Regions from separate parts of the Homo sapiens genome. Here all the other regions are linked to region 1. The links come from fine-mapping of genetic effects on gene expression. A gene starts in region 1. Each other region holds a variant in brackets. All regions are shown on one strand. Distances are between the middles of the regions.

What was found. PIP is the estimated chance that this variant, and not a neighbour inherited with it, causes the effect.
Region 2: its variant is the best candidate, but not a certain one, in a credible set for the expression of PLAAT2 in whole blood (INTERVAL, PIP 0.59).
Region 3: its variant is the best candidate, but not a certain one, in a credible set for the expression of PLAAT2 in whole blood (INTERVAL, PIP 0.66).

The regions. Positions count from the first base shown.
Region 1 is chr11:63,561,957-63,564,717 of GRCh38, reverse strand. It overlaps PLAAT2 (phospholipase A and acyltransferase 2), which reads left to right and starts at 1,339. Exons shown (of 4, transcript NM_017878.2): 1 at 1,339-1,402. The coding sequence starts at 1,394. RefSeq lists a silencer at 303-382.
Region 2 is chr11:63,540,294-63,543,054 of GRCh38, reverse strand. The region is part of intron 2 of PLAAT4 (phospholipase A and acyltransferase 4); the gene reads right to left. Among named protein-coding and RNA genes, the nearest start is that of PLAAT4, 4.9 kb to the right of the region's middle. The variant G/A (reference allele first, on the strand shown) is at 1,574.
Region 3 is chr11:63,434,350-63,437,110 of GRCh38, reverse strand. No RefSeq gene overlaps it. Among named protein-coding and RNA genes, the nearest start is that of PLAAT5, 55 kb to the left of the region's middle. RefSeq lists enhancers at 990-1,541, 1,542-2,094. The variant G/A (reference allele first, on the strand shown) is at 1,258.

The sequences.
Region 1 (2,761 bases):
GGGCAGGAGATAATTAGCCAAGCCAACCCTACTGTCTCCCTCCAGAAGGAATACTTTGAAGATTGTCCCACTGCAACTCAGAGGAGAATGGAGTGGAGGTGCTGAGAGAGGCCGTCTCCATGGGAGCAAGACCACATGACCACGTGAGCTGAGGGAGTAGCTGGTCATGCAGAACTGCTGTGGCTCCCAAAGAGTTTTCCAGTTCTGGCTCCAGTCCATCTGCATCCCCACACTAAAGCTCTTTGTTTGTTTGTTTGTTTATAGCCTGAAGAGGGTAAGTTATTGGTCCTCGCCCCCATGCCCCACAGTGAGGATGCTCAGCTCCCCCCAGCCCCACCCACCCCTTCCTGTCCAGTTTGCTCAGGACCGGACAACTATATGTAGATGACAGAAGAGATACTTATTTGGAGCTTGGGTGAGATAAGCATGCAGGTGCCTCAAAGAAGCAACCTCTACACACCCAGTACTGGGTTTTGGTTTCCATTTGGTGTGGAATGAGTGTTTCTGAACTGTGGGTGAGAGGCAGAAAGGGGAGTGGTTTCTATACTGCTGTCCAAGCAGGCTCACTCTGTTTCCAGGGTAGAGGAATGTGCCTCCAATAATACGATTTTTCTAGGGCCATGGGGTTTGAGGTTGGTGGAAATGTTTGCCTGTCCCGGCAACCATCATTCCCAATTTGGAGGCATGAATCTCAGTCTCTCTGGGGCTCCTCTCTCCTTTTTGAAATTTTCCCCCATGGTCTCTGTCTCTATATCCTCCCTTGCCCCCACAACCACTGGATCTTGCTTGTTCCACCTGAAACTTGGTGATTGTCAGCTGTGCCCCTGACCACACTGCCACTAAGTCCTTCTCAATCTATATCCTGAGCTCTGATTCCTCTTCTGTCTGGCTGATTTTCATGCCGCCTTGCCTACTTGATATGTGCTCTGCCCCTGTTTGAAGACAGGGAAAATTTTACATGAACCTTGATCTATGTTCTGTTTTTTTTTTTTTTTTTTTTTTGACTGAGTCTCGCCCTGCCGCCCAGGCTAGAGTGCAGTGGCACGACCTCTGCTCGCTGCAAGGTCTGCCTACTGGGTTGACGCCATTTCCTGCCTCGGCCTCTGGAGTAGCTGGGACTACAGGTGCCCACCACCATGCCCAGCTAATTTTTTCTATTTTTTAGGAGAGACGGGGTTTCACCGTGTTAGTCAGGATGGTCTCGATCTCCTGACCTTGTGATCCTCCCGCCTCAGCCTCTCAAAGTGCTGGGATTACAGGTGTGAGCCACCGCACCCAGCCTATGTTCTGAAATAGTTGTATATGGGCTGGGTCACAGGGAAAGTGAAACTCAGAGCTAATTTAAGGCTGGACACAGAGTCAGCAACACACAAGACATCATCTTGAAGGAAGGATGGCTTTGGTAAGTCCCCAGAAACGGTTTTAAAGCTTTGATTTGAGGAACAACCACCCTATTAGTGATGATTATGTGTATTCTTGTTGGTCTACAGCTCTGGCATGGAGGGCACATGGGCACATGCTGAGTTCTGGGGGTCTGGCTCTCTCAGACACTGTGGGAAGGAACCACGGTGCTGGGTTATGACCCTGGAGGCTCCCCAGCCTCAGCTGCCGCATGGGGTCTGGTTCTACTGTGGCCAAAGTTTGCGTTTATGCTTTTCCAAGCCCTCCTCTGGCCAAACTACCAGTGGCTCTGCTAAGCCTCCTGAAGGCAGGAATGGTGGGCTCAGGGAGAGCAGCCCTTGGTTTACCCCACAGGCCGCCTCCTCTGTCACATCATCCTCAGTGGGAGGGATTAGCTGGGGAGGGAGGGTCCAGGGAAAGGGCTCCAGCTGTGTGGGTGGCAATGGGGGCTGTCAGAAAGGGCTCTGTCTCCCTCGCCTCCAGGCAGGGCCAGTCCCTCTACTTTCCCTCCTTCCCTCCAATTCCTTCTTAGTTTCCTTCTTCCTTTAGACCCAATAGCAGCCACATTTCCCAAGTGCTCAGGGGTCCAGACACCATGCTAAACACTTCTTTTATTTAATCCACACCAGGTAGTTAATAAGCAATCCTATGAAGTAGGCATAATTACTGCCAACTTCATGGATAGGAGGAATGATATACTGGTAAGTATAGAGAGGGGGCTGCCCAAAAGTCAGAGAGGGAATTCGAACTTAGGAGGCTCTGACTCTAAAGCTTCGACTTAAAAAAGAAAGAATGTATTTAATTCCAGGAGAAATACGTGAACACATTCACTTTGTCTGAAAAACCGAAACTCTAGCCTGGGCAACATAGTGAGATCCCATCCCTACAAAAAATATTAAAATTAGCCAAGGATAATGGTATGTGCTTATAGTCCTAGCTTCTTGGGAGGCTGAGGTGGGAGGATCACTTGAGCTGGGGAGGCTGAGGCTTCCTGCAGTGAGCTGTGATAGTGCCACTGCACTCCAGCCTGGGTGACAAAATGAGATCATGTCTCAAAAAAAGCCAAAAGCCAAAAACCAAAACTATTAGCATAAAAACTAATGTCCCCTTTGACCATCCTTCCCATCTGTACAGCCTTTCCCCTCTGTACAACCTGGTGCGTATTCTTCCAAATATTTTTCTGTTTTTGCATACATATATGGCTACCTTACAAGTATTGGTTTGTAGCTTTGGGGTTTGTTGTAGTTTTAAATTGCATTCCGTGAGGACAATTCAGTTAGGAAATGCTTGAATCTTTTCCTTTATTTACCAGCTTTTGGAATAATAGGGTGATTCTTTTCCATCCTCCAAAGATGCCTAG
Region 2 (2,761 bases), 22 kb after region 1:
ATAACTTCTACCGTGGTTAAGAATTTTACTTAAGAAAAGTATTGAAGTTCAAATCCAGGTAGTATTACATTTGAAATTTTTATAAGGGTTATTAATTTAATAAAATTCATTATCAGGTTTCCCCTATAAGCTTTCTCCTAGGTTAGTTTTCCACAAGCATTGTTTTACATACACTGTAATCAGGATAACACAAGCTTAGTGTTAGATCTTGTAGGAAACCAAGATTAGAAGCATTAGAAATGTGCAGAATTTAAGAAATTATGTTTTGTGGTAATCTGTGGCCAACGATGATAGAACCTAGTGCAATTGTAAAGTGAAATTCAAGGAGAAGGAATGAGGAGTTAGGCAAGCAGCACACTTGAATATTAGTGAAGGAGAGGAGCTGTGAGTCAGGAATCAGAGAGACCTGCTAAAACCAGACAGATATAAACACCAAAGACGGAAGCCAAATAGGTAGCCAAAAATCCAGATATTTGAGAAGCAGGAAATTTACAGCAACCAAAGAAATAGGGCAAGATAGGCAGGTGAACACACATGATACCTCAATTGACAATCTTCCTCCTACCAAGCCAGACACGTTGTAAATGCTGCTTCCCATTGGAGCCCAGAAAAAAGGAAAGTTTAGGCTTTCTGTGTCCTATGTGTGGAAGCAGGGAATTGGATTGAAGACTTTCATAGTTGTAAAATAAAGGCAAATCCTGAGGAACTCACTGATAGAGATGTGAAATGACAGTACGGAAGAAAACAGAATAACTATATAAATATATTAGTCTAGGGCCACTTAATTTAGAGGAAGAAAAAAAATCACCCCATCCACAGAAATAGTTTGATAAACAGGTCACTAAATAATTAGCATTTATAAAGATTCTTAGTTATCAAGGGCTGCATTGTATTTTATATACTCAGTTTTATAAGGCGATACTTTTAAATAAGCATTTTAATGAAAATGGTTAAACTGAAAATAATTTTGGTCCTTAAAAGGAGTCAGGAGCTTTTATATATAAGGTACATATTTTAAAAGAATACCTCCTTTATAACAGGGTTTTACAGACACTACTGTAATTTATAATCATTGTTTTTTACTTTTGGGTTCACCTAGATCGTATGAGTTGGTATGATACTTCCAGAACAAAATTATTCATAATGTGTTTTTTGTAATTTATGATTTTTAAGTAAGCTTGACTTATAAATTGACATTGTAATTTTGTACATAATTGGATATATGTGCTAAAATTTAACATTTAGATTTATTTAATTGTAGAAAATACAAATGTAAAACTTATACATGGAAAGAACTGTATGCAGTTGACTTTACCATGGAAATTGGAGGGAAACAGTTTTAGATCAATTTTCTTTCAAAATTTTCTTTATTGTAAAGTATGCAAAATATATATTCATACCATTTATTAAATCAGAATGTTTATGCAAAAAAAAAAAAAAGACTGCAGTGAGCTGTAATCACATCACTGTACACCAGCCTGGATGGCAGAGTAAGACACTGTCTCAGAGGAAAAAAAAAAAAAAAAAGGAAAGAGAGAAAAATTGTCTTTAAAAAGCCTCTTTACGGCTGAGC[G/A]CGGTGGCTCATGCCTGTAATCCCAGCACTTTGGGAGGCCGAGGCTGGTGGATCACGAGGTCAGGAGATCGAGACTATCCTGGCCAACATGGTGAAACCCCATGTCTACTAAAATACAAAAAACTAGCTGGCTGTGGTGGCATGCGCCTGTAGCCTCAGCTATTCGGGAGGCTGATGCAGGGGAATCGCTTGAAACTGGGAGGCGGAGGTTGCAGTGAGCTGAGATTGCACCACTGTACTCCATCCCGGTGACAGAGCAAGACTCTGTCTTAAAAAAAAAAAAAAAGCCTCTTTACACACTGCAAGTTAGGCACAAAAAGGACCATGTGTCTTCATTGCCATGCTTTGTCTTACAAGGTCCCTGAGGATCATCTGGATTAAGTGGGCTTGATTTACTATTTTCCATCAATTCAGACATTTTTACAATCCTGCCTGGGAGATGATGGCTTGGAGAAAACTGATAAGATGCAAATGTCTTGCCCTGATAGTGATGGGAATGGTTTTTGTCCAGTGACAATGTAAATGCTTGGTGAAAAGAGAACATGAGAAGTTATGTAGTGGCACTGCCCTAGAGGATATGAACTTGCCTGCACCTACCTAATTTGGCAGTCTCATTGTCTCATTTCTGCATTTTTGTTGTTGTTTTTTGAGACAATGTCTTCCTCTGTCTCCTAGGCTGGAGTGCAGTGGCACTGTCTCAGGATCTCGGCTCACTGCAACCTCCGTCTCCCAGGTTCAAGCAATTCTCCTGCCTCAGCCTCCTGAGTAGCTGGGATTACAGATGCCTGCCACCACCCCCAGCTAATTTTTGTATTTTTAATAGAGACGGGGTTTCACCATGTTGGCCAGGCTCGTCTTGAACTCCTGACCTCAAGTGATCCGTCCGCCTTGGCCTCCCAAAGTGCTGGGATTATAGGAGTGAGCCACTGTGCCTGGCCTCTGTGTTCGTTTTTTCCCCTTTCATTGGCTATCCATACATACGTTTCCTTCATTCTGCTTTTAACTGGGTATGTCATATTTCTGCTTCTGTTATTAATGAGTTAAATAAAACATTGGTATTGCTTACTGTGTATTTGTATGAGAATTTTAAAAAAATGTATAAACCTGTGAGAATTGCTCCCAGTAAGGAATCTTAAGTATATAATATCAAGACACCTTGTTGTGTGAAAACATATGAGGCAAAGGATC
Region 3 (2,761 bases), 130 kb after region 1:
CAGCATTTGCTTGTCTGTAAAGTATTTTATTTCTCCTTCGCTTATGAAGCTTAGTTTGGCTGGATATGAAATTCTGGGTTGAAAATTCTTTTCTATAAGAATGTTGAATATTTGCCCCCAGTCTCTTCTGGCTTGTAGGGTTTCTGCCGAGAGATCCGCTGTTAGTCTGATGGGCTTCCCTTTGATGGTAACCCGACCTTTCTCTCTGGCTGCCCTTAACATTTTTTCCTTCATTTCAACTTTGGTGAATCTGACAATTATGTGTCTTGGAGTTGCTCTTCTCGAGGAGTATCTTTGTGGCGTTCTCTGTATTTCCTGAATCTGAACGTTGGCCTGCCTTGCTAGATTGGGGAAGTTCTCCTGGATAATATCCTGCAGAGTGTTTTCCAACTTGGTTCCATTCTCCCCATCACTTTCAGGTACACCAATCAGACGTAGATTTGGTCTTTTCACATAGTCCCATATTTCTTGGAGGTTTTGCTCATTTCTTTTTATTCTTTTTTCTCTAAACTTCCCTTCTCACTTCATTTCATTCATTTCATCTTCCATCACTGATACCCTTTCTTCCAGTTGATTGCATTGGCTCCTGAGGCTTCTGCGTTCTTCACGTAGTTCTCGAGCCTTGGCTTTCAGCTCCATCAGCTCCTTTAAGCACTTCTCTGTATTGGTTATTCTAGTTATACATTCTTCTAAATTTTTTTCAAAGTTTTCAACTTCTTTGCCTTTGGTTTGAATGTCCTCCCGTAGCTCAGAGTAATTTGATCGTCTGAAGCCTTCTTCTCTCAGCTCGTCAAAGTCATTCTCCATCCAGCTTTGTTCCGTTGCTGGTGAGGAACTGTGTTCCTTTGGAGGAGGAGAGGCACTCTGCTTTTTAGAGTTTCCAGTTTTTCTGTTCTGTTTTTTCCCCATCTTTGTGGTTTTATCTACTTTTGGTCTTTGATGATGGTGATGTACAGATGGGTTTTTGGTGTGGATGTCCTTTCTGTTTGTTAGTTTTCCTTCTAACAGACAGGACCCTCAGCTGCAGGTCTGTTGGAGTACATTGCCGTGTGAGGTGTCAGTCTGCCCCTGCTGGGGGGTGCCTCCCAGTTAGGCTGCTCGGGGTCAGGGAGCCACTTGAGGAGGCAGTCTGCCGGTTCTCAGATCTCCAGCTGCGTGCTGGGAGAACCACTGCTCTCTTCAAAGCTGTCAGACAGGGACATTTAAGTCTGCAGAGGTTACTGCTGTCTTTTTGTTTGTCTGTGCCCTGCCCCCAGA[G/A]GTGGAGCCTACAGAGGCAGGCAGGCCTCCTTGAGCTGTGGTGGGCTCCACCCAGTTGGAGATTCCCAGCTGCTTTGTTTACCTAAGCAAGCCTGGGCAATGGCGGGCGCCCCTCCCCCAGCCTTGCTGCCGCCTTGCAGTTTGATCTCAGACTGCTGTGCTAGCAATCAGCGAGACTCCGTGGGCATAGGACCCTCCGAGCCAGGTGCAGGATATAATCTCGTGGTGCGCCGTTTTTTAAGCCAGTCGGAAAAGCGCAGTATTTGGGTGGGAGTGACCGGATTTTCCAGGTGTGTCTGTCACCCCTTTCTTTGACTCGGAAAGTGAACTCCCTGACCCCTTGCGCTTCCCAAGTGAGGCAATGCCTCGCCCTGCTTTGGCTCGCGCACGGTGCACACACCCACTGACCTGCGCCCACTGTCTGGCACTCCCAAGTGAGATGAACCCGGTACCTCAGATGGAAATGCAGAAATCACCTGTCTTCTGCATCGCTCACGCTGGGAGCTGTAGACAGGAGCTGTTCCTATTCGGCCATCTTGGCTCCTCCCTCCTTTAATCCATCTTGAGCTCATTTTTGTATAAGGTGTAAATGGGTCCAGTTTCTGTTTTCTGCATATGGCTAGCCAGTTTTCCCAGCACCATTTATTGAATAGGGAATCCTTTCCCCATTGCTTGTTTCTGTCAGGTTTGTCAAAGATCAGATGGTTGTAGATGTGTGGTGGTATTTCTGAGGCCTCTGTTCTGTTCCATTGGTCTATATATCTGTTTCATTACCAGTACCATGTTGTTCTGGTGACTGTAGCCTTGTATTATAGTTTGAAGTCAGGTAGCGTGATGCCTTCAGCTTCGTTCTTTTTGTTTAGGATTGTCTTGGTTATATGGGCTCTTTTTTGGTACCACATGAACTTTAAAGTAGTTTTTTCTAATTCTGTGAAAAAAGTCAATGGTAGTTTGATGAGGATAGCACTGAATTTATAAATTATTTGGGCAGTATGACCATTTTCACAATATTGATTCTTTCCATCCATGAGCATGGAAAGTTTTTTCATTTGTTTGTGTCCTCTCTTATTTCCTTGAGCAGTGGTTTGTAGTTCTCCTTGAAGAGGTCCTTCATATCCCTTCTAAGTTGTATTCCTAGGTATTTTATTTTCTTTGTAGCAATTGTGAATGGGAGTTCACTCATGATTTGGCTCTCTGCTTGTCTATTATTTGTGTACAGGAATGCTTTTGAGTTTTGCACGTTGATTTTGTATCCTGAGACTTTGCTGAAGTTGTTTTTCAGCTTAAGGAGTTTTTCGGGCTGAGACAATGGGGTTTTCTAAATATACAATCATGTCATATGCAAACAGAGACAATCTGATTTCCTCTTTTCCTATTTGAATACCATTTATTTATTTCTCTTGCCTGATTGCCTTGGCCACAGCTTCCAATACTATTTTGAATAATAGGAGTGGTGACAGAGGGCATCCTTGTCTTGTGTCAGTTTTCAGAGGGAATGCTTCCA